Linked DNA regions of Homo sapiens: regions 2, 3, 4 and 5 are each reported to be linked to region 1. The links are microRNA targets in miRTarBase. Many come from high-throughput screens and were not tested one by one. Region 1 holds a microRNA gene; each other region holds the end of a gene's coding sequence.
What was found. The annotated mature microRNA hsa-miR-2467-5p reads UGAGGCUCUGUUAGCCUUGGCUC and lies in region 1 at 1,669-1,691, opposite strand. An mRNA with a match to its seed (bases 2 to 7 or 8) in the 3' UTR can be bound and repressed. Matches are read on the target gene's strand: a 7mer-m8 pairs with bases 2 to 8, a 7mer-A1 pairs with bases 2 to 7 and ends in A, and an 8mer does both.

Region 2: the mRNA of SSH3 is a reported target of hsa-miR-2467-5p. Seed matches in the 3' UTR shown: 7mer-A1 at 4,175-4,181 and 7mer-A1 at 4,121-4,127.
Region 3: the mRNA of ALX1 is a reported target of hsa-miR-2467-5p. The part of its 3' UTR that is shown has no 7-base or 8-base seed match.
Region 4: the mRNA of RIMS4 is a reported target of hsa-miR-2467-5p. Seed matches in the 3' UTR shown: 8mer at 2,700-2,707.
Region 5: the mRNA of QSOX1 is a reported target of hsa-miR-2467-5p. Seed matches in the 3' UTR shown: 8mer at 1,200-1,207, 7mer-A1 at 1,941-1,947 and 8mer at 2,326-2,333.

Annotation. Positions count from the first base shown.
Region 1 is chr2:239,350,103-239,355,204 of GRCh38, forward strand. MIR2467 (microRNA 2467) reads right to left here and starts at 1,702; the gene lies at 1,622-1,702. HDAC4 (histone deacetylase 4) reads right to left here. Exons shown (of 27, transcript NM_001378414.1): 2 at 2,576-2,816. The coding sequence starts at 2,597. RefSeq lists a silencer at 2,365-2,558.
Region 2 is chr11:67,311,086-67,316,187 of GRCh38, reverse strand. It overlaps SSH3 (slingshot protein phosphatase 3), which reads right to left. Exons shown (of 14, transcript NM_017857.4): 14 at 3,596-4,597. The coding sequence ends at 4,301. Among named protein-coding and RNA genes, the nearest start is that of SSH3, 10 kb to the right of the region's middle.
Region 3 is chr12:85,300,762-85,305,863 of GRCh38, reverse strand. ALX1 (ALX homeobox 1) reads right to left here. Exons shown (of 4, transcript NM_006982.3): 4 at 4,080-4,709. The coding sequence ends at 4,389. Among named protein-coding and RNA genes, the nearest start is that of LINC02820, 15 kb to the left of the region's middle.
Region 4 is chr20:44,752,011-44,757,112 of GRCh38, forward strand. RIMS4 (regulating synaptic membrane exocytosis 4) reads right to left here. Exons shown (of 6, transcript NM_182970.4): 5 at 4,888-5,027; 6 at 1-4,342. The coding sequence ends at 4,124. It overlaps KCNK15 (potassium two pore domain channel subfamily K member 15), which reads left to right. Exons shown (of 2, transcript NM_022358.4): 2 at 1-303. Among named protein-coding and RNA genes, the nearest start is that of KCNK15-AS1, 8.3 kb to the left of the region's middle. RefSeq lists enhancers at 1-478, 4,726-5,102.
Region 5 is chr1:180,196,164-180,201,265 of GRCh38, forward strand. QSOX1 (quiescin sulfhydryl oxidase 1) reads left to right here. Exons shown (of 12, transcript NM_002826.5): 12 at 99-5,102. The coding sequence ends at 874. Among named protein-coding and RNA genes, the nearest start is that of LHX4, 32 kb to the right of the region's middle.

The sequences.
Region 1 (5,102 bases):
TTAGAGACAAGCGGATGGAGAAATATTTGTTAGCCAAAAGAAACCAAGGGTAGAAATACCTCATGAAACACTATAAGCTCTCGGTCAAAGAAACATTAAACAAAGAGAAATATATTATATTTTGATAAGAGACCTGATCTACCAAAAGAACAGTCATTAATTTTTAAGCTTTAAAAAAAAACACTGAACTATATAAAGCAAAAAATGGTTATTAATGTAAAAAGAATATTATAAGACTATAATCACAGTAGAAAAATACACTTTTCCAAGAAATCGAGCAGACAGAAAAAAATAAGTAAAGCTATACTGATTTAAATAACTCAACTGAGTTAATATATAATTAAAACAACATATAAAGAAAGGATACATATCCTCCTATATATAAATAAAATATATATAAATGAGAGAACTTTTTTTTTTGAGACGGAGTCTTGCTCTGTCGCCAGGCTGAAGTACAGTGGCGCAATCTCAGCTCACTGCAACCTCTGCCTCCCAGGTTCAAGCGATTATCCTGCCTGAGCCTCCTGGGTAGCTGGGACTACAGGCACACGCCACCACGCCCAGCTAATTTTTGTATTTTTAGTAGAGATGGGGTTTCACTATGTTGGTCAGAATGGTCTCAATCTCTTGACCTTGTGATCTGCCCACCCTGACCTTCCGAAGTGCTGGGATTACAGCTGTGGGCCTCTGCGCCCGGCCGAGAACTTTAAATACAATATTGATACATACATACAGACGTCTTTAGACTGAAACAAAATCCTAAGAGCATACTTTCTCTTCAAATGCCTGCAGAGCATGTACAAATTATGATTATGTGTACACCAAGTCATACAAAAATATGCACCCCCATTAAAATAATCAAGTGTACTCAAACAATAATTTTCCCATAGCACACTGACAAAAATGAGAGAGACTGAACCTACCCAGTGCTGGTACAGCACAAATGAAAAATATGCATCCTCTTACACTGGAATTAGGAAGATCAGTTGGAACGAGGCTTCTGGAGCAATTTGACAGTCAACCTAATGATGTTTTAAGTGCACGGGCTCACTGACCCAGCTTCCACTTCCTGGAATTTGTCTAGTAGTGATACTTAGAAGTTTACAAAATATATGTATAATAATTGTTTGATGCCAATTTGGAATTGGTATAAACACTGCTACAACCACATAAATATCCATTCGCAAGGTATCAAAAGAGCAAGTTATATTTGCACACATACTGATACCAAAAGATGCTTATAACACATTAAAATGGACAGAATGTAAAACACAGGGCCCTGCCTATAGAATTATACTCTATGAAAATGCTCACACACATCACACTATGTTTAGACACAGAAAAAAGATACACTCTCACCCAACAGCAGCCCAGTGTAGGAGGGAGAGAGCCAGCTCCATTCAATGTCTATTTAGACACTTTGAGCCATAGCGCTTAATTTTGTCTTGGAATGATCATAAACCATTTCTTTACATCAGTCAATACATAAACAATTTAACTCAATAAAACTTTCATATCTAAAAAAACCTGGAATCTTGCCCTCTGGAATTTTCAGACAAAGACGATTCCACCCAGGGAAAGATGTGTGTAAGCGTTCCGGCAATCTCAAAGAGAGTGACCCAGACAGACCCTGAGCCTCTCTGCCTCTGCTCTAAGGAGCAGGACCCAGAGCCAAGGCTAACAGAGCCTCAGGTGCCTGTCCAAGCGTCTGTCCAGTGGCCACCGTCTTCTCTCTCATGTGGACGCAAGACAGAAGTCGATGGCTAAGTGCCCTTGAAGGCCACGGTGCGCTGGAAGTGGCAGGAAGCTGGGCAGCACAGGACTGGCTCTGCAGGAGCCCCACACTCAGGCAGGTCGGCGGCAGGCCTCGAGGTTTCATTATGGTGCACGCTCTCGGTGACTTTCCAAGGACAGAAAGTGTGAAGTCGTAAATGGATGGGCCCATGACATGCTTCTGAAGCTCAGAGCAGGACAAGCTTGCTTCCCAATCATGTGGGTCCCCCACCTACCAGCTCTGTGACCTCAGGCAAATTACTTCTTCCCTCCAGGCCTGAGATGATCTGGGGCTGTACTAAATGCTTGTAAAATGCTTAGTGCAGCCCCTCACAGAGGCCCTCAAACACCAGGAGCAACTGTGGCCACGACCTCAGTGGGAACATGAGCTTCTTCCCAGACAGCCCAGACGCCCAGTTGGAGGAGCACTCCCACCCCTCACACAACCCCTCATGAAACAACAAAGACACTGGGCAAGAAACCAGCTCTCCACATCACAACCTGACCTTTCAACATCACCCTTGTCAAAAAGCATCGAGGAAACCTGTGTGCCTCTCAAGTCAGCCTGCAAACCGGGGTCGCAGACTTGACTCCACATCCTCCCAGGTTTTATCATTCTTCTTTCACCAAGAGGAAGAATAAACCATCCATTTTGCACTTTGTGCTGTCAAAAACCAACAGTGACCACTATCAAGAAAAACAAAAGTCTCAAATCCAGAAAGCAAGCTGCAGTCACAAGAACTTCTACTTTGGGCAAAGAAAGCCCCGCTGTGTGCCCAGAGAAGAAATGACCCGGCCTTACCTGGATGGCTTTGGGAGCTCATTGCTAGCAATGTCCACTCCTTTAAGTGATTCGAAATGGCTCAAAATTTCCACGGAAACGATAGCTCCAACGAGCTCCAAACTCCCACCAACACATACAAGTACCGGGACGGTGAGGGCTGGGTCACAGACGTTCAAGCGCCGAGCCTCGCCGGCAAGGTCTCATGAGCCAGGTAACCCACAAGTTGAACAGAGGCGTCCGCTGGCTTCTGCAGATGAACCTGCAAGGTCAGAAGGAGAAAAGAGACTGGAGTTACAACATGGAAGTTCCGATCTGGAAAACAACATCCAACTAGGGAAATGATGACTTCCTCTTTTTTTTTGGAGACAGAATCTTGCTCTATCGCCCAGGCTGGAGTGTGGTGGCACGATCTGGGCTCACTGCAACCTCCACCACCCCTGCAACCCTGGGTTCGAGCAATTCTCCTGCCTCAGCCTCCCGAGTAGCTGGGAACACAGGTGCATGCCACCAGGCACAGCTAATTTTTGTATTTTTAGTAGAAACGGGGTTTTGCCATGTTGGCCCAGGCTGGTCTCAAACTCCTGACCTCAAGTGATCCACCCACCTCAGCCTCCCAAAGTGCTGGGATTACAGGCTTGAGCCACCACGCCCCACCAACTTCCTTCTTTATCCTTGTTCTGACCAAGGACTGATAGAACAGTTCGACGGAATCATTTCTACAAATACGAGCAGTGGGATTTTTGTTAGTAAATCACAGACATGTAAAAATGTCTCCAGAGAGCAGGGTTTCTCAGCCTCAGTACCACTGGGATTTTGGTTTGCGTATTTAGGTGTTGGGGTGTAGGGCTGCCATACACATTATAAGATATTTAGCAGGATCCTGGGCCTCCACACACCAGATGCCAGCAGCATCTTCCAGGTCATGACAACCAAGAATGTCTCCAGGGAGTGCCAAAGGTCCTCTGGGGGATAATATCATCCCCTGGTTCAAAATATCTGATCTAGAGACACCTTCCTTACCCCTTCCAGAAGTTTCTCCAACATTAGGCTTTTGAAAGGAAGCAGAGTATCTTCCAACTAATATAAATTTATTCTGTCATATTAGCTTATGAAATAAATATGAAATAAAATGTTTTAAAAGAAAAATCACTTTCAGCACATTCCCACCACAAAATGTCATTACTGCACGCTTGCATCAGCCTGGATCCATAGACATTCGTAGTCACAATGTCTGTGTAATCACAGAATTTAATTCTAAAGTCCGCATTCCTCACGTAACATGATAACCTAAAATAGTTCCCTCATGTTTCTGTCTTCATAATGACCATTTTCTCAGGTTTTCATTTTCTGCTTATAAAAGCAATACATGCGCATCACAGGTTAAGTATTTAAAAAGTCATCCATGATGCCATCACACACAGACAAGCCCTTGGTAACATTCTGACATGCTTCCTTGCCGTTGTTTTTCTTTGCCTTTTGCCCATACGAACCTCTAGTGATACAGCTGTCTATCACGTTCTCTGTGCTGATATTACAGCCAGGCATTTTCCAATGGCATTAACAATACCTGGTAAGCTTCGTTTTGAAGGGCTGTTTCCTATTCCATGTGTGGATAGACAGCTGCCCCGCCCCACTTCAGGAGCTTCGGATGAGCCTGCTGCTCCCAGGGAAGTGTCGGGCCAAAGAGTGGCATGTGGCACCAGCTGAGCTCATCAAGTTCTCTTTCCAAGGCCTGCCTCTTCAATAGATCAGTCACTAGATGAACCCAAAAGAGACAAGTCTCAGCACTCCTACCACTGAGAGTCCCTGGCTGATCCCAGCTCAAGTGCTTTCAGAGGCTTCTGTGTTCATCTTTCTTTAAAAGTGTGACCAATTCCTTTTCTTGATTTAATTAGTCTAGAAATTTTTTTTTTTTTTTTTTTTTTTTTTTTGCCAATTGCTTATAACCAAAGAACTCTAACCAGTTCATCATGTAAAGAATCACCCCCGCCCCCAAGGCTGGCTATCTAGATGCTTTCCAACTTTATGTTCATTGTATCTACAACTCTGATTAATATCTTCATGACTGTTGTTCTGTATCTGGTTATCTCCTTAGGAATGACAATGACTTATTTGTCTTCAGGGTCAGAATGTTTATTCATCTCTTGGTCAGAAAGAGACATTTTCTTGAAGGGAATGTAGATGGCATATTTTTCAAACCCTCACAAATCTCAGATGACAGTATCCTTCACACAAAAAAACACATCTCAGCTGGGTATAAAAATCTTAGATCACAAATATGCCCCCCTCAAAATTTTTGGATGTCATTCCCCCCTCAACATTGTAGGGAAGTTTAAGTCCAGCTCAATTACAGCTTCTTTCCAGGTAAAACTTTGGGGGCCGAGTCTTGATGTTGTGGTTGTTACCATTTTCTTCTGCCTGGAATCTACTGGCATTTTTTTCTTGAATCTTAAAATTCAAAAACGTTGTCAGAAGATACATAAGTAAGAGTCTTTTATTTTGTTCAAAACATGACTCTTTCAACAAATATAGGTCTTCTTTCTGC
Region 2 (5,102 bases), not on the chromosome of region 1:
AAGGTGGTGGTTGCAGTGAGCCAAGATTGCGCCATTGCACTCTAGCCTGGGTGGACAAGAGTGAGAATCCATCTCAAAAAAAAAAAAAAAAGGTGTGGGGTTTTTCTCCCCACACACCAAGCAACAGACCAGCTGGGTGGCCTCCAATTCAATTCCAACTCTGTCTACCGGGAGATAGTGTCGGATCGCACAGGTTGAGGCTCAGCCCCCAAGACTGCATCTCCCTCCCCTCAGATCCCAGTCAAAAGTCCAGGCCTCCAGAACTTCTGCCTGACCAGCTTCAAGTTGGGGTTCCCACGATCCCCTCTTTCGGTTTGATTAATTTGCTGGAGCAGCTCACAGAACTCAAAGAAACACTTACGTTTAGTGGCTTATTATAAAGGATACTACAAAGGATAAAGGTGAAAAGATGTGCACGGGGGAGGGTGCGGAGTGTGCACACCCTCCCTAGGTGCACCACCGGGGAGGAACCTGCACATGGTCAGCTACCCAGAGCTCCAAGAAGCCAGTCCTCTTGGGTTTTTAATGGAAGCTTCATGACATCAGCATTCCTTACACCAGGGTATAGAGTGAGGAGGAGGGTCTCTCTGGGGAGGGTCTTATAACCCACAATCTGAAAGTGAGGGTGAACAGTAGAGCCCTGCCTTGGGGCAAGGGAGAGGAGGGCAGAATGTCAAGAGGTTGTTTCCTGCGGCCTGCTCCTGAGGCCTGACACACTCAACATTAGAACAAAAGACTGAACAAGGGCTATGAGGGTTATGAGCCAGGAGCCTGGATGAAAACCAATGTATATATAACACCACGGTACCGATGTGGAACTCTGATATGAACCAATTTTCAAAGTGTAGAATAGTATGTTAACATGCTATTGTCTGTATTTTTAAAAAATACACATACCAATATATTTGATTACATAAGCATGGGGTACCTGGAGGGCATCAAAGGCAGCTGGTAACAAGTCATTGCCTGAGTAGATGTGAAGGACTAGAGGACAGAGTAGGAGTGAGATTTACTTTTCATTTTATATCCTTCTTATTATTTTTTGCCCCTTTAGCAATTTGGGTGAGCTTTGTGTATACATAGGGTTTTTTTTATTTTTATTTTTTTTTGGAGACGGAGTCTCACTCTGTCACCCAAGCTGGAGTGCAATGGCGCAATCTTGGCTCATTGCGACCTCAGCCTCCCAGGTTCGAGCAATTCTCCTGCCTCAGGCTCCCAAATAGCTGGGATTACAAGTGCACGCCACCACACCCAGCTAATTTTTGTATTTTTAGTAGAGACAGTGTTTTGCCACATTGGCCAGGCTGGTCTCGAACTCCTGACCTCAGGTGATCCAACCACCTTAGCCTCCCAAAGTATTGGAACTACAGGCGTGAGCCACTGCACCCAGCCAATAGGGTTCCTAATTGTTTGTAGTTTTGTTTTGTTTTGTAGAGATGGGGTTTCACCATGTTGCTCAGGCTGGTCTCGAACTCCTGGGCTCAAGCAATCCGCCTGCCTCAGCCTCCCAAAGTGCTGGGATTACAGGCATGAGCCACCACACCCGGCACCCTCTTGTCTGTATTTTTGATGCGGTTTCCCCTCCAGTCTTCATTTCCCTGTTTGCTGACTTCTTACTTCTTAGAATCCTCCTGGATTCTAGTGGATTCTAGTGAGCCCCACAGCTCTGAGTTCCTGATTGGACCTGCCTTCTGAGATGCACAGGCTGCAGGAGGGGCAGGGCCTGGCCTTGGCTTACCCCGACACTCTCACCACCACCCCACCCATCTGCAGCCCTAGGCCAGGAATACTGAAAGGGCAGCCTGGGTAGGACTCCTAGTTGGCCACAGAGTGGGGGGTAGCCCCCAGTGTTTGCTCAGCAGGATGGATCAAGAATCAGAACTAGCTTGCATGTACCCCACATCTTGTGACCCTTAGGCATACCACCCAGATAGGTGCCAAGGATTCCTCTTCTGGAAGGGAGGTAGAGGCTAATCTAGCAATGTCTAGATAGCATGTATTGTTAAAATGTATCAAAGTGTAGCCAGGCGTGGTGGCCCTGTAGTCCCAGCTACTCAGGAGGCTGAGGCAGGATGTCTTGAGCCTGGGAGGCAGAGGTTGCAGTGAGCTGAGATCACCCCACTGTACTCAATAATAAATAAATAATAAATAATATAAAATGCATCAAAGTGAAGAGGGGTACTTGGGGATTTCCAGGTCTAATCCCTTTATTTTACAGAAAGAAACAGAGACTCAAAGCAAAGTAATTCATAAGTGGTGAAGCTGGGGCTAAATCCAAGTCTCCTGCCACTGCGCACTTCAGGGTTAGAGCAGTGCTAGGAGTCCCACCAGGGCCTGGGTGAGAGATTCATTCTTAAAACTGGGCGTGAAGTCTCAGTCACTGAGAATGCTTGGTGCCAGCTCCCATCTCTAAGGACTGCTTTGAGGGAAGGAGTTGAATCCGGCCCCTTCCCCAAACCAGGGTAATGTATCATAGAGCAGAGAGCATACATAATCTTGGGAAGAGGGATAGAAGTGACAAAGATGGGCCAGGCGCAGTGGCTCACGCCTGTAATCCCAACACTTTGAGAGGTCGAGATATGCAGATCGCTTGAGCCCAGGAGTTCGAGACCAGCCTGGGCAACATGGTAAAACCCCGTCTCCACAAAAAATAAAAGATAAAAATTAGCTAGGCATGATGGCACATGTAGGTAGTCCCAACTACTCAGGGGCTGAGGCAGGAGGATCCCTTGAGCCCGGGAGGTTGAGGCTGTAGAAAGCCAAGATCATATCACTGCACTCTATTCTGGGTGACAGAGCAAGACCCTGTCTCAAAAAAAAAAAGGAAGTGACAAAGATACAACCACTTAGCTAGGTGTGCCTGTGGTCCCAGCTACTCAGGAGGCTGAAGTGAGAGGGTCTCTTCAGCCTGGGAATTCAAGGCTGCACTGAGGCATGATCGTGCCGCTGCACTCCAGCCTGGGCAACAGAACCAGACTCTGTCTCAAAAAAAGAAAAAAAAAGATGGAATGACTAACTCTTCTTGGACACTAAAGTTGAGCAGAAGGAACCCCTGGGCAGGAGGGGAAGTGTCACCAAGGGTCCTTCTTCCCAGGCCGCAATAGCCTGGCTTGGAAAGTCAGGCCCTTTGCTTTGTAGCAGGAGGAAGGTGATTCTTGGGACCCAAAACATGCCAGAGAACCTGGCGCCGAGTGTCCCAAGGAGGCTTCGCTTTTGGAACAGGCTTGGTCCTGTCCAGGTAGGCACTTCCTCATGAGTAACCCCTTCCAGCTCTCACAGTGGAGCCACATGCCTGCTGCCCGCTGACGACTTCTTCCCTTGCCCGACCTGTCTGAGCGGGTGGGTGTGAGCAGGTCATATTTACCAGGCCCTGCCCCAGGAGATGGGGAGATAGCACTGACTTCCTCTCTTCTCTTACCCAATCTTCCTCCCACGCCACGCCCAAACACGGCACTCCCCCAAATAGGTCTGTCACGAGCCACCTTGGAATTGTGAGGAGACTGCTGGGAGGAAGGGGCGGCCACCTTCCCCAGCCAGCAGAGAAGGGTCTGACTGCAACACAGATGGCTTCATCGTCACATTGAAAATAACCAAATATGAAAATGTGTTTTATTTCTCAGTACAAAGCCAGATACTGTAAGGCTATGAAAAACTGACTAGCCAGAGGCCAGAAAGGACAAAAAGAAGACTATCTCTGGCCTGGTGCCCTGTGATCTGGCGTGGTGTCACAGGAGGTCTGGGGACAGCAGCAAAGACCTGGACCGGTGGAGGTGGATGAGGGAAGCGATCTGCCAGCCCTTCCAGCCTCCCGCGGCTGGGGCCTGAGGATCCTGCCTGCCTTTGGGGGCCACTGGTTGCCTGGCCTGGCTGGTTCCAGGAATGAACTGGGAGAGGACAGGAGGTGCAGGGAGGGGGCGGGGGTGGGAGGCGTGACCCTTTTTGCACGGGAAGCTCTGTTTTCATTCCGTGCCACAGGTGAGTGTGCAGGGCTAGAGTTGAGAATGAAACTAGGGTGCTGTTGCCCCCAAAGGTACCTTCAGTCCCTCTACCACATCCCAGTTAGAAAGTCTTGAGCCCTTGGACAGGCAGACATGGGCCTGGGACTTAAGGCTGTAGGAGGTGAGGCTGTAGTGACAGGGGTGGGAGGTGAGGCCGTAGTGACAGGGGTGGGAGGTGAGGCTGTAGTGACGGGTATGGGGCGGAGCTGAGAGGAATGTGTGCGGCAACAGACGTGAGGGTGTTTCTCCAAGGAGTTGTGGATCCTCTTCAGTGTCAGGGGAGCGTGGGCATGTGTGAGGGCTCAGGCCTCGCCCTCCTCTCCACTGTCATGCACGCTGGCCTGTCTCACCACCTTCCGGAACCTGGGCGTAGAGGAAATGCAGGGCTCTCCCTGCCCCTGCCCCTGCCCCTGCTCCTGCTCCTGGAAGGCCTGGGTCCGGTTGGCCACCACGGCACTGCCCTGGAGGGTAACCACTGACTGGCGGGACTTCAGGGCAGGCTGAGGCCCCCTGTCCACCTGCTGGCCTCCCTTGGTCCTTGCAAGCTGTGGGAAGGGCTGCAGAGGCTCTTCATGTGAAGACTCGTGGGAAGAGAAGACCTGGACAGGTGTGAGGATACGGAAGCCATGGGAGGCCTTTCTGGGGCAGGGGTGCCCAAGCACAGAGCCGGGAAGATCTGGGGCAGGGGTGCCAAGCACAGAGCCAGGAGGAGGCGAGGGCCGGAATGTTTGTGGCACGCACGCCAAAAGCCAAGCTGTCCACAGCCACGCTTCCTCGGGAGGGAGGACAACACCCCAGCCCTGCTGCCCCGCTCCTTGAACCCTACCTGCTTGTAGCTTCCTTCTGGCCCCCAGAAGCCCTCCTCAGCTCCCTGGAGACCCAGGCCTCCCTGCCCTCCTCCCCTCCTATGCTTTCTCTGCCTTTGCGTAGGCAGCCGGCAGGTGAAACCCGTGCCGGCACCAGCCCCTGAGCTGGGCTGGGTGGATGCGTGCGTCCGGTGCTGGGTGAGGACCTCTTGCCTTTAGCAACGCCCACACCCGCCCATCAACCCACCACGCCTCCCTATCCTTCCCCACCCACACCTCCTCCAGGAAGCCTCTCCCA
Region 3 (5,102 bases), not on the chromosome of region 1:
AGTGGTATGCAATTCTAAGAATAACAAGGCACTAAAAGGGCTTCTTTCAGCTCTTTACTATTTTATTCAGTAAAACTGAAGAATTAGCTAGTTCCTGTCTTGAAGCATTGTTCACCATCTTGCAGTACATTTCCAAGATTAATGACAATATGCTTATATAAAGAGAATTACTGAAACAAAAAAAACCTCTTTCAGCATTTACTATGTGCTATAAAATATCACATTTAATCATTTTTGAGATTTTGGGCCATAAATGGAGCTGTACTGCTAGGTATTTCATTTATGACTTCATTTGCATATTTGACCACCAGTGAAATTATTTAATACTACCTGGCGTATATAAAATATATATAATAGGACTTAGAGGCCAAGAGCTAAAATATTATTTAATATATCACTTTAATAAGTAGATTATCTTGCAAAAAGTCATACTTCTTAGTCAATGCAATATATGAATTTCTATAAGGAAATAATATCTGTTGAAGTTTTAAATGCCTAATTTTTAAAAGTAGAAATAGGTTAAAGAGAACAATTATGAGCTAAGTAATAAAGATATATTTTTACATTCTAATTAGAGAAAAGAGAGGTCACCACCAACTGGAATTTTAAAAATAAGATCATTTAAATTTTTCTCCTAAAATATTTGGTAGTATAAGTGACAAATATTTTAATACAAAATATGCTAACATAATTACTTATTGTATAGAATATTATCTGAATTAAATGTTGAAAGACAGAAATAAGAGCCACTGATAAATTTAGGAAATTAAAATTTTCAAAGCTTATATAAACACTGTAATTGATCTTTTCACTTCTTATTTCATCCAAGGCATTTTTTTAGTTGCTGGTTAACTAAAACTATAGCATTATATATAGAACAGCATTACATAAAACAGATGGAGGCTGGGCGTGGTTGCCCACGCTTATAATCCCAGCACTTTGTGAGGCTGAGGTCAGAAGTTCGAGACCAGCCTGGCCAATATAGCGAAACCCCGTCTCTACTAAAAATACAAAAAATTAGCCTGGCATGGTGGCAGGCGCCTGTAATCCCAGCTACTTGGGAGGCTGAGACAGGAGAATCGCTTGAACCTGGGAGGCAGAGGTTGCAGTGAGCCGAGATCACACCATTGCACTCCAGCCTGGGCAATAAGAGCGAAACTCCGAAAAACACACACACACACACACACACGCGCGCACACACACACACACACACACACAGATAGAGGTGATATGTGAATTATACCATGGCAATCACAACAAGCACCAAGTGTCTGAGATGAGAAAGTAAAGATACAAAGAGAAAACAATGGCATATTGTCTTGAGAAGAACTGTATTAAGTCCAAAGGTATTTGAGAGAAGAAAGTAAAGAGACAAAAAGTAAACAATTGCATATCATCTTGGGAGGAACTGTGTTAAGTCAAATGGTCTGCCTGTTATCCCTCCCTTGAAGGCAAAATAAGCAGTCAGATGAAAGGATGAAACTAATACATTCCCATAATTTATACACACAATTTCATGAGTTTCCTCAAGGTTATATAGGTTACATAACTGTTATTCCTTTAAGATATGTTGTCAGGACTCAGGGCAAAGACTGCAGTGACTTTATTTTTCTACTTTCATAAGATATTATGTAAGAATAAAATACTTACTATTTAATATTCATAACAAATAAATAAGACACTTTCAAAAATTTATAAACCATTTCTTAAATTTCATTTTATCCTTAAGAAACTGCAACCTTACCTAATTTTCCCATAAATTTATCTCTCCTCATGAGGTTCAAGGGTTAACCATGTTGCTCAAGAAAAAGAGTACAAGAAGCATCTTTTAAACCATGTATGCAAGGAAAATGTATGGAAGGGGCAAATAGGGGATGAGATAGCCATGGGAACAAATGTCCATGTGGTTCAAATTACTTATTGTACCAAAACTCCCAATAATACTATCAATAATAAGCCCAAATAAAAGTAAGTAAAATGTTCCTTAGTTTTTTCTCTTAAGAAAAGTATATAACATCAATATGAATTCTAGTATTGAAACTTAAATTCAGAAGGAGCAAGAGAAAATTCAGGAAATTCATTTTATGTACTTTGTTTTAGCTTTATCTTACCCTATTATATCAAAAGTTCATTTTATTTATTTTTGGCAACTTGAATACATAATAAAAATTCACTGTGTAAAAAAGGAAGTTGGAATGTTAACACAGGAAAATTCATGAGATTCTTACTGCCATAATACAATTTGAGGCATGGCTGAGGGTAAAAACTTCAGGCATGTGTTTGTCCAGGAAGATTGTGAACTCATAAAGGACAAGAACTATGATTCCATTACTTATTTTATTATTGCAAATAGTCCTTCATCTATGTTTTTAAAATATGTGAATTATACAGAGAATTATAGATGTAAAACCTTAATTAAAAAGATGTTTCAATTGAAAAAATAGTTATAGAAGCTCCAACTAATTATTACCTAATTATTAAGTATAAGGAGAAAAAGACTAGAAAAACTGAGGAAGAAAATGAAATTTGAACTTGACAATATGACTTCTGTCTCTCATTTGAAAAATATATGGTACTAGCCAAGGGATACTAAAATTTAAATTAAAGAGGAAGAAAATGAAAATGAACACTATTAATTTGTGAAATTTTTGAAAAGAAAATCTTACCTTTTTGTTTTAAGTTTTAGTTCACAAATTCCTATTAACCACATATATGAATATATATGAAAATAAGTCATTCTCTTCTAAAACCAAAAAGGATATTTAACAGCTGCCTAAATAGACTTTTAACAAAAGATCTTGCATGAAAGCATAATTCTCACAGCCAAATTGAACACATTTCTTTTAGAAACAAAAATAAAGAAAGGGAACACAAAAGTAATAAAGAATAAAGTATTATGAAGTCAGGGAATGTTTGTTTAGGACATTACTCATTTCTATCATCAGCTTGATTTAAAATTTTATTACAAAAGATGTTTAATTGCTATAAATATTTTCCCACTAAGAAGATACACTTACGGGATTTAAGTACTTTTTCCAAAATTTAATTTTAAAATTCATTTATTCTCGTCCTTTAGCCATTAGAGCTCCCAAGCATATTCCTAAAGTCTGCAGGAACCACAAGAAGATTCTACAGAGTACAAAGAGCTCAGCTCTAATCTGAGCCATGGAAGTCATCTTCATTTCAATTAATTTACTTTGCCTTTATGAACTTAAGAATCTTTCATGGAGGTTGACATTTCACTCATCTGAAAAAGCTTGGAATGTGACAGGGTAAAGGGAGGAGAAGTAAATCAAAGGGGTTAGCAATTTTCCAGATGCAACGTATTTTTCTTCTCTTCTTTTCCAACAGAAATTTTAGAAAGCTTTCTGACATTTTAATTCTCTATGCAAAAACCACAGTAGCAAAAAATGCTTAAGGCATAATATGTTGAGAAACAAACACACATGCATGTAAGCATGCACATACCCACAAAATACATATAAATTCCAACTCGCTGATGCTTTAACAGAAAATGTTACTTTCAGTGTAGTATTAATTAGTGGTTTATGTGCACAGTTTAATCAACACGATCTTAGTTTAAAAGCAACAGCAAGGTTTATAAATTTTTTCTTGTTTGTGATGATTAAGTAATTGAGTCTATGCTGGCTTCTTCACTGGAAAAATGACATTTATAAAGTCCGCTCCCATGACTATATTTTCAATCACACCAGAATACTTCAGTTATCACCTTTAGCCATGTGGCTTCAGGAAACCATGCCCAAATATCTCATGCGAATGTTGGTTATTTTAAAAGATCCCTTGTTTAACAGAGTGGAAATTCACTAAAACATCAAAGGGTAAAAACAAAAACAAAAATGAGGCTTGAAAATAAATTCTCAGCAACAGGGTTTTTGCCCACTGCTTTTTGGAGAGAGAGAGAGAGCAGTTAACTCCCCAGAACACCCTGATTCAATATTTACCTGACGACTTTGGCATCTTGACATTTTCCCCAGTGCATTTCCTTCTTTATCAGGTATTATTTTACATGAGATTTCTTGTTATACAGAAGTAACATAAATCAATCTATAACAGAAGAATTTGTTTAACACATTTATTCTTTAATAAGTTGCGTGATCATATTTCATTGACTTGTACAATAGAAAAAGAAAACCTTACTACTAAAACAGGGTTTGTGGAGACTGGCACATGGTAAACCTATTTAGTCTTTTCAGAGGTTCATTCTTAGATTTTAATGTTAAATAACAACTATTCATTTAAGCTGGTCTCACTGAATATCTTGACCTTTAGCAATTCCACACACAGCAGCTTATTGTGGTATCCTTTAAATATGAGAAATAAGAATGTTTAACTTTGCTATTAAAAGAAAAATAAAAGAGTACTGTATGTTACATGGCCCATGAAATATTGGCGGTGTGCTCCTTGGCTTTCATTCGAAGAACTGCGATACTGGAAGACCTCCTTTCAAACTCTGGCTTTGTTTCAAATGCATGTCCATTGGTTGCCCCAGTAAGAAGAGAGTCAGTGAAAAAATTGTTGAGGGGCACGTGGCTGAACTGGTTCTGGTGGTTTGAAAACCCCGTGTAACTGGAATCTGTCCGAGGCGAGTGAGAATAAGGTGTCATACAGGAGGAAGTGTCACGTGGTAACATGCATGAAGTAACCACAGAACCACCACTTGCATTTCCTGCCCACAAATTGTTCTGAATCTGGAATATATAAAACAACAAATATTACATTTACATGTTCTCACTTTTGTTCTCTTACTTTTGTTAAGTTGTATTTACTAAATTTGGTTAACTATTCATTGTTTGCTCCTATTGGGTGGTCTGTAATTACATACAACAATGACTAAAAAATAATTACTTGAGAGATCCTTCTAGTTTGTTATACTGAAATAGAGCAACAAATCTCACATTCTTGGCCACATAACGTACTCTCAAACATGTCTATCTCCTATAAAAAAGTATTATTTTCATAGTCATGATTTTAAAAATGAATCTGGAAGATTGAGTCATGACCAATTCATACGATTAGAAAAGTAGTTTAAAATCTGGTTTTAAGTTTAAAGATAGTTTTTGTCTTTCTAAACAAAATGACAC
Region 4 (5,102 bases), not on the chromosome of region 1:
CCACCCGTCCAGGAAGCAGTCATAAAGTGAAAGGGCTCCAGAGGTGATGCTCACAGCCCTGGGTTCGGCTCCATTCTGACCTCCCTGAAGCGCTGGGTTAGACGGGCACCATCAGCCCACCTCACAGGCTCGGCGTCGGGTGAGCTCGTGGACGCTAATGCTTTCTGTCCACTCTGAGGTGCTGCTCCAGATGTGGGGCCCTCCCAGAGGGCCTCGGAGACACCATAGGGGAACAGGGAGAGGGGCTCGGTCCCTGGGCCTGACACAGCACTGCTGCTCAATAAATAAATGCAGGTGACCTTGCCTGACGCAACAGCTGTGCCTCCAGAGGGGGTGGGACTCGGTACTGTTTCTGACACGGAAATGCACCCAGGAGCTCCTGGCTGAAGGGAATTGGCTTGTGAAGTACATAACCACCCCCTAAGCCACCTGCTCCACCTCTGGGTGTAAAAGAGTGAGCTCTGGGCTGTTGGAGAACCGAGTTCCAGTCCTGCCCACCCACTAACACAGTGGGACCTCAGGCAAGCACTTTCCCCTCCCAGGACCTCAGCTCCCTGCTTTGAAATGGGGATGACGGCACAGGCCACCACCTACTCCCCAGGGGCTCTTGTGAGGGCCGAAGGGCACACTCGAGATAAAAGCATTCTGAAAACAAAGTCTGAAAAGCACAACAGGAAGGCCAGGTCTCACTGCATCTGAAGGTTTGGGGAGGACTTGCCTGAAATGAGGCGCCCACAGCTGCTCCCATTCCCTCACTGCCCCAGGCAGGAGCTGGTGTTTCCTAACTCTCCCTCCAGTTGGTCCTGAAGAGGCTATGGCCCCTTACAAGGGCCCTCCACCCAGGCATCAAGGTCTAGACCCAATCCTGTGTACCCTCAGTCAGCTGGGCCAGCCCCCAAGGAGAGCTGAGTCTCCCTGGCAACCCTCTCCCCCAGACCCAGGCCCAGAGAAGTCACTGGTTTATAGAGGTGGAGCCCAGTAGGGCTGTGCAGCCCAGGGCTTCGAGGCCAGGAATCCTTGTCCCAGCAGACATGCACTGGAGCAACGGTCTCCTGTCGCCTGAAGAACAATGGAGCCCCTAGTTCTTCCCCCTTTGCACCCTTGCTGAGGGGTCTTGTGTGAGTCACTTCCTGTTTCTGGGCCTCAGTTTCCCAACCTCTCAGATGGGCTACAGCTTGTCCTGCCCATCTTTTGGGGGGCCATTAGGCTTCAAAGAAAGAAGGGAGGAGGAGGTATGGGCAGTGGCAGCCCCACCTCATACTGCCCTGGCTCCGGCTCAGCCTCTATTGGGAGGAGGGGACCCAGGCTGGGGGTGCCACTGAACACACAGGTGACTCCAGGGGTGGCTTTTCCCCCAAGCTGGGTCTTGATTTCCTTGTCTGTAAAATGGAAATGGACTAATGGTCCCAAAGGCCCTTCAAGGGGGTTCTGGAGAAGGAGAGTGGAGATGGCTCCTTCCCATGGTATCCTGCATGTGATCTTGGCCCAGAGATTGAAAACAGTCATCCCCTGGAGACCCCAGCCCCCCAGTGGCCCCTAGTGCCAGCCTCTCTGCTCCTCTTCAAACAGTGCAGCCTGAGTCAGCAAGGGGCCAGGCAGTAGCGGGGACAGGATGGGCTTGAAGCTTCTCCGAAGCTAATGATGAAAATGTCACTCTCCTCCCCAAACCCCCATCCCTTGGTGAGGACAGACCGTAGTTCCCACACCCAATGGTCACAGCCCCTGGGAAGGGGCACATGCTCACGATGACACAAAGAAACAGGGCTCCAGCCCCCAGCTGCTCCACCCCTCCAGGAGGTGAGCGGGATTTCACAGAACAAACAAGAAAATCATTGAGGGGGCCCTCACTGACCACCCCCAGGTGTTGTTATTGCTTCGGAGCTCTCTCTCTCTTTATAAAGGCTGTGCAGACACCAGGGGAAGGGCTCAGGCTGTCAGGGCCAAGCCCCTGCTCCCCCTGGTTGGGACAGCCAGGCTCTGCCCTGTTTTTGAAAAGCTACCCCTGAACAACCACAGCGGTGATGGCTGGAGAGAGAAGGCGCTCTCCTGGCTCAAAATATTCCAATGGTAAGTAATAAACGAACAGCAGAGAAATCACACTGGTTAGAAAAACAAACAGGCAAGGGGCCAATTCTGTGCCTTGAATGCGAATCCCTCCAGAGCCCTGCTCCTTCCACCCCCAGCCTTGGGATTCCACCCACCGCGGTCCCAGGAAACTCTGAAGACCTCCTGGGTAAAGGGGGCGTCTCCATCTCCCCTTCCCAGTGCAGGGTAAGCAGCTCTGTGGAGGTGATATACATTGACCAGAACTTTAAAGAATACCCAGGGTTTCCACAGGCTAAGGGAAGGGAAGAATTTCCGGGTGGAAGGAGTTGCCTGGTGGGACTGGGACCGGGACCGGGACCAGGAACAGGGTGGGACCAAAGGCAGCCTGGGTGTCCTCAGGAGAAAACAACACCCTCTAATGGAGACCAGGCCCCCTCTGCCAAGGTCCTACAACCCTTAGGAGTCCCTCATAAAGAAAGTCAGTACCAAGAATAATAAATCAGAACAGCCGAGTATAACAGGCAGCTCCAGCTATAACCCTACGGGGACAAGGGAAGGAAGGGGGCGGAGGAGGAGGGGCTGGCCTCCTGTGAGCCAGGCTGCCCCATCTAGGCCCAGGCCAGCGAGGAGACAGTGGTCTCCTGGAATGTACTTGAGGCTCCTCTCCACCCCCGGTCCTGGGACTCTGTAAGGACTATGCATGAGCTAAGAACAGGCCCCAGGGCTTGGAGCACTAACTCTACCTAGCTAACCTGGACTACGCCCTACACAGCAGGGACTAGGTAAAGAGTGGCAGGCTTCTGGGTGCCTCCCAGGGGAGGTGGCAGAAATGTGCTTCTATAAAGAGGGGCCAGCCTCCATCCTCCCTTGCATGCAAAAGGGCTCCCGCAGGCCCCAGGGAGGGCTGGGCTGGGAAGGCAGCTACCCAGGCCTGCTGGAAAAGGAATCTCCCAGTTCTTACACTCACGCCTCTTCACTTTTCTCTCCTACCGCCATCTTTCCTTCAGCCAAGGTAATTGAGGCCGGGGCAGTGGGTTCTGCCCTTAGTATAGGATGTTTTTTTTAAAAAGACTAAAATAGGGGGGCTCTATTTGCCTCCCCAGCCCCCTGGCCTGGAGGCAGGGTGGGTAGACAGGATGACCATTGACCTCATGCAACAAGGAGGGGTTCTCCAATTTGAGAAACCCTTATCTTGGCACCACCAGTCCCAATCCCAACTTTCCTTAGCCTCCCCCTCCAATACAGCACCCCCAAATGCTCTCTAGGGTTGGGGTTCTGGAAACTCAGGTTCCACAGCTCCTCCACCGGAACACAGACGACAACATTCTTTCTAGTCCGCCAGCGGTTCCTAAACTAGCTTGTTGCAATCCCATGGAGCGAGGCACCTAGGGGTCTGTGCCAGGCCCCCGGCACCTCCTCCTTTCCTTTGGTCCCTGCTGAACCCCAATTCCTAGAGCCACCAGAAGAGGGGCAGGCAGGAGGGGACGGACGGATGGACTCGGACAGGCTGCGGCAAAGCTCCTTCCACGGGCAGGCAGAGGGAAGCTCAAGCTCCTCTTCAAGTGGGGGGCTCTGGGCCCCTGGGAGCTGGCTCCGGATCCTTGCAAAGCTGCCCCTTCATCTCTGGGGCAGGAGTAGCTGCCTGAACCCGGTGCCGCAGGAAAGACACTTGCTGGTAATTGGCACCATGGAGATGGCCGGCTGGGTTCTGGACATGGCTCTGGGCAGCGAGCTTCCGAGGAGGCAAAAAGGGGGAGAAGTTGGACAGTTTGGGAAGGGAGAGTGGTCTGCTCTGCCACCTCAATCTTTCCTTTCTCTGGACTGCAGCCACATCCACCAGGTCAAGAACCGGCCAAGTCAAAAGTGTAGCCAATCCCGTTGGGAGAGGGGAGGTCTCGGGGGTAGGAGGCAAAGAAGGGGTGAGGAGGGGCCCAAGGGGGGGCAGGTCTCCCCGTTCTGCTTCCCCACTGTGGGGGAGAGCCCCGTCCTCCTGTTCAATGTGCCCCTGGGCCTGGGGTCCCAGGTCAGGGCTGGGTGGTCTCCAGGCCATCTTGGGGAGCCCCTCCCCATTCCAGCACTAAGATCGTTCTCCGCAGGGCCCCACGGTGCTCTCGAGGGACAACTGGGATGCCTGCCGGAGCAGGGGGCCTGTGGCTGGGTCCACCATGGAGGAGGTGGGGAAGAGCTTGTACCAGCCCACGGCCAGGGTGGTCAAGTCCAGCTCCTCCAGCAGCACGCGAGCCACACCCATGAACTGCTTCCGCTCCATCCGCCCGTAGTTCCCCCACACGATCACCTGTGGGGCAAGAGACACAGTGGTTCAAATCCTGCCAGTGCCACTCACAGGCCCAGAAGCAGAACCTGGGTCGCCCCATGCCCAATCCAGCTCAGTCCTGTGATTTCTACCTCCTTAAAACTGCAATTCCTCAACAGGCCTTTCTTATCACGGGGCATCACACCAAGCCCCTGGCCTCCAGAGGCTGTTGATGGTAATGGTGACGGTGACGATGGTAATGGGTAGAACACTTGCTGTAGGCAAAACTGCAAATACTTTTCCTGCACACAGCACACATTCCACTGGCACCAGAATGTTATCAGGTAGGTACTATTAGGGTCCCCGCTTTACAGATGAAGGAACTGAGGGTCAGAAGGGAACTTGTTCAAAGTTGTGCAGTAAGTTGTGGAGCTCAGTTCAGCCACAGTGAACTGAGGGCCTCGCCTGTTTCCTCCAGGCGAGGCCCTCCAGAGACACCCCCCGCCAGGGGTGCCCTCCTCTCATTCTGGTACTGTGCATGTGTGCTCGTGCACACACACACACGTGAGCGCGTCAATGCCCCTCACCTGGAGGACTTTGCCCTGGGGACTCTCAGGAAACAGCAGCACCTGGTTATACAGTGGGTCCAGCGACTTGCGAGCGACTTTGGTCTTCTTCTTGGCAATGCAGATGCCATTCTCTAGCAGGTAGGCCTTGATGTAGGCCGCTGGGGATAGAGGCCAGCAGGGGTGAGTTCTAGTTTGGCCCTCAAATGGTGGGCAAAGGGTGCAACAGAGGGAGG
Region 5 (5,102 bases), not on the chromosome of region 1:
TGCAGACAAGGAAGCTGGCGTTCTGAGTGGAGGAGTGTGGTCTGGGTTTTTGGGTGGGACTGATGTCACCACCAGCCTGTGTATGCTTCCCTCTGTAGGTGCCCCCAGCGAGGACCCCCAGTTCCCCAAGGTGCAGTGGCCACCCCGTGAACTTTGTTCTGCCTGCCACAATGAACGCCTGGATGTGCCCGTGTGGGACGTGGAAGCCACCCTCAACTTCCTCAAGGCCCACTTCTCCCCAAGCAACATCATCCTGGACTTCCCTGCAGCTGGGTCAGCTGCCCGGAGGGATGTGCAGAATGTGGCAGCCGCCCCAGAGCTGGCGATGGGAGCCCTGGAGCTGGAAAGCCGGAATTCAACTCTGGACCCTGGGAAGCCTGAGATGATGAAGTCCCCCACAAACACCACCCCACATGTGCCGGCTGAGGGACCTGAGGCAAGTCGACCCCCGAAGCTGCACCCTGGCCTCAGAGCTGCACCAGGCCAGGAGCCTCCTGAGCACATGGCAGAGCTTCAGAGGAATGAGCAGGAGCAGCCGCTTGGGCAGTGGCACTTGAGCAAGCGAGACACAGGGGCTGCATTGCTGGCTGAGTCCAGGGCTGAGAAGAACCGCCTCTGGGGCCCTTTGGAGGTCAGGCGCGTGGGCCGCAGCTCCAAGCAGCTGGTCGACATCCCTGAGGGCCAGCTGGAGGCCCGAGCTGGACGGGGCCGAGGCCAGTGGCTGCAGGTGCTGGGAGGGGGCTTCTCTTACCTGGACATCAGCCTCTGTGTGGGGCTCTATTCCCTGTCCTTCATGGGCCTGCTGGCCATGTACACCTACTTCCAGGCCAAGATAAGGGCCCTGAAGGGCCATGCTGGCCACCCTGCAGCCTGAACCACCTGGGGAGGAGGCGGGAGAGGGAGCTGCCATCTCTAGGCACCTCAAGCCCCCTGACCCCATTCCCTCCCCTCCCACCCCTTGCTCCTTGTCTGGCCTAGAAGTGTGGGAAATTCAGGAAAACGAGTTGCTCCAGTGAAGCTTCTTGGGGTTGCTAGGACAGAGAGCTCCTTTGACACAAAAGACAGGAGCAGGGTCCAGGTTCCCCTGCTGTGCAGGGAGGGCAGCCCCGGGCAGTGGGCATAGGGCAGCTCAGTCCCTGGCCTCTTAGCACCACATTCCTGTTTTTCAGCTTATTTGAAGTCCTGCCTCATTCTCACTGGAGCCTCAGTCTCTCCTGCTTGGTCTTGGCCCTCAACTGGGGCAAGTGAAGCCAGAGGAGGGTCCCCCAGCTGGGTGGGCTGGAATGGAACTCCTCACTAGCTGCTGGGGCTCCGCCCACCCTGCTCCCTTCCGGACAATGAAGAAGCCTTTGCACCCTGGGAGGAAGGACCACCCCGGGCCCTCTATGCCTGGCCAGCCTCCAGCTCCTCAGACCTCCTGGGTGGGGTTTGGCTTCAGGGTGGGGTTTGGAAGCTTCTGGAAGTCGTGCTGGTCTCCCAGGTGAGGCAAGCCATGGTTGCTGGGCTGTAGGGTGAGTGGCTTGCTTGGTGGGACCTGACGAGTTGGTGGCATGGGAAGGATGTGGGTCTCTAGTGCCTTGCCCTGGCTTAGCTGCAGGAGAAGATGGCTGCTTTCACTTCCCCCCATTGAGCTCTGCTCCCTCTGAGCCTGGTCTTTTGTCCTTTTTTATTTTGGTCTCCAAGATGAATGCTCATCTTTGGAGGGTGCCAGGTAGAAGCTAGGGAGGGGAGTGTCTTCTCTCTCCAGGTTTCACCTTCCAGTGTGCAGAAGTTAGAAGGGTCTGGCGGGGGCAGTGCCTTACACATGCTTGATTCCCACGCTACCCCCTGCCTTGGGAGGTGTGTGGAATAAATTATTTTTGTTAAGGCAAGCATTGGTGTGTTCTTTAACTTGCTACTTGGAGACCTAGTGTCCAGTCTGGACAGAATGCACAGAGACCAGCCTCACCTGGAATGCAGCCAGACTCGATGTCCCTCAGCACACACAGCTCCTGGCCACAGACTGCCCATAGAACTGTCTGCACCCAAACCCCATGGCCTTTTCATGCACGGAGACAGGCCTCTGGATGTGCAGCCTTGCCACCCCCTGCCCCAATCCTCCCTGAGAGCTCCTGCCTCAGTGCCCTGGGCTGGTGAGGGAGAAGCCTGTCTGCACCTGCCTAATTCCAGCTCCTCCAGGAAGCAAGGGCTTGTTTGTCAGAGCTGCAGGGTTGGCCACTCGGTGGGGAGGAGTCAGCCAGGATTAGAGAGCCTGCCCCTAATCCGGCCTGCTGGGTTTTACAAGGATCAGAGCTGCTGATAATGAACCTCATTAAGGGGGAGCAGGAGCCTCAATCCGATTTGGTTTTCTCTTTGACATCTTCACTCTGCTCAGATGGCCTGGGTGCTATGTGGAGCAGGTGGGATGCCAAGGCCACTCCTGCTATGGGGCAGCTGGGGCTGGGGAGGGATGGCAGTCTCCCTGCATGTTTCCCTCGACCTCTTTAGCTGCAGCGCCTTGCTGGGCTCCTGGGTTGGACTCCCTCTCTGTGCCCCTGCTCCAGGCACCCATTGGCTCCATCCTCCTGGTTGTGCTCTGCACCCCCTGCTCCCTTGGGCTGGCCCTGGCTGGGGGCCTGAGAGACAGACAGGAACCCACAATCAGGAGGCAACCCTGGCCTGCAAGAGGAAGACAGAGGCTCCCAGGGCCGGTGCCCTGTGTGCCCACTGCACCAAGGCCGCTGAATAAGCCTGCCCTTCACCCCCTAAGGGCTCCTTGCCCAATGCCAAGTGCTGGGGATTTCTGTCAGCAAGCCCTGTGGCTCCAGTGACGGTATTTCTAAAGCCAAACTTAGTTACCTAGAATTAGCGCCATGTTGGAAACACTGTCGCAGCAGCCCGGGCTGCACAGTGTGTAGCCCAGCCTCCAGGTCCACGGAGTGGTGTGGACCTCCCACCTCACAGCTGCCTCTGGCAGCCAAGCCTCTTTTCGCCCGGCCCCAGCCCCTCTGGTTGATAAACGGGTGGGCCTCCTCAGCAGCGTGGCTGCCTTTCACCTTGATTTCCCCAGGGCTCTCGGCAACATCGATAAACCAGCCTCGCCCACCAGCTGGGCCCTCCCCCACCCAGTCTGCCAGGCTGGGAGCTGGAGCTTGCTGAGTCTTGAATGCCCTTCTAGATGGCTTCTCTAGAGGCTCTCCTGGCAAGAGAGGGTCCCAAGGGGAGCCCTGCAAAGCAAAGGCTCCTTGTCTGGGGCGGGATAGAGAATCTCGCCTCTGTCTGGTGTGTTACCTACTGGGGGCACAGGAACAATTTCCTCAAGGAGACAGTGGCATGGAGCTTTGAAAGACGAGTAGGTGTTAGCAAGGAAATAAGGAGGAACGGGGGTTACGGGCAGAGGAGAAAGCACATGCCAAGTCAGCAAAGAAAAGTAGAATTCGAAAACTTTTTAAAAATATTACTAAGGATTTTCACAATGCTGCACTGGGCTAGAAACTGAAGCTAAAACAGATACGTGGTCCCTGCTGCTATGGGGCTTCCGTTCTAGAGGCAAGGACAGGTTGTGATGAGGGTTCTGAAGGATAGAGACCAAGCAGGGAGGGTGTTGAGGAGGCTTCTGCGAGACCTGAAGGATGGGAAGCCAGGAAGTGGGAGGGGTGGGGGTCCAGGCTGGAGGGGCCCAATGTAGGTGTAGAGGGACTACAGCCCTGAGGGGCTGCTCCATGCGGCATTCTTGGAGGTCCAAGAGGGGCAGCGCCACCTTGGGCCAGGCTCCTCTCCAGCAGCCTTGGTATGGGGTGGGGGTGGGAAGACCCCTGATGCAGCCTGTCCTCTGGGTGTGGGGGTGGAGGAGAGGGCTCCAGGGGACCCAGCCAGCCTTGACCCTGGAGGAAAGTCAGGTGGGCTCAGAGAGAGCCCTCAAATCTGGGCCCTGGGTCAGGGTGGGGTCAAGTCCAGCCTTGAAGAGAATGGACTCTGGAATCTGACGTCTGGGTTTGAATCCAGCTTCCAACACTCACTGGCTGTGTGACTTTGGGCAAGATAACTTATCCCCTTGTCCCCATGTGTCATTGGAGATAAACTACCCACCTACCAGATTGTTGTACCATGCTGGGCAAACACTAAGTGCTTAATAATGGTAGCCCACTGCTCATGTCGTGTCGTCTCCTGTCTTGATACCTGAAAACTCAAGGGGCCCTGTTGTGCTTGGAGGGGGGTGCCGTTCCCACAGGATATTCTGTGAAGGGTGTCCCTGGAGCTGGGCCTCCAGGTGGCAAGCCCCAAGCCACCCCGGCAGGTGCCACTGGCCAGAGTTGAACTGAGGTGTTGAGTGGAAAGTGCCTCCCCACCCCCATCTGCCACAGTAGTATGGATTTCCTTCATGAGATGGGGCTCCTAAAATGCCTGAAATGTGTATGCTGTTGGAGAATTGATGTGTATGATTTATTGAACTTTGCACTCATTTAAATCTCATTTAATCCTCCAACAACGCAAGATGAAGAAGCTGAGGCTTAAAGAGATTAAGAAACATCCTATCCCCTTTACTCCCACCAAAATAAATACATTTGCCCTATTCTCCCAAATGGTGAGAGGTAGATCCAGGACTTGACCCCAGATCCCACCCACTCAACCCTGGAGCTGCAGTCTCTACCCCTTCTAACACATGTGATTCTGTTTCATGTCCTGTTCCATCGGTAGAGTTACACACTTTCCTGAGACTTTATATGGTGGTGCTGCTGGGTGCCAGCCCTTCTTCCCTCCAACAGTGGCAGTAACCACTGTTGTGTGTTGGTGTCAAGGAGTGGGGACACCCTGAAGGAATCCGCCTTTTCTAGAGCTCTCGCTCCATTCCCTACATCGAGGCTGAAGTGCCCTGTCTCGGGTCCTTGTTTTTAGGCCTCGTTTGAAGGAGGGGAAGAAACCAGGTTCGTTGGGCGTGACCTTGGCTCAGCTCGTCTGTGAAATTGGGGCCGCAGACTTAGTTTGCGGGTCCCTGCTAAATTCCTCTCCCTCTTCCTGGGATTCCCATCCATGTATTGCCAGCTACATGTAGAGTGGAGAGGAGAGGTTTTTCCTGCAGGGCCTTCCAGAGAAAGGATTCTTGGCCAGAGGAAATCACAGCC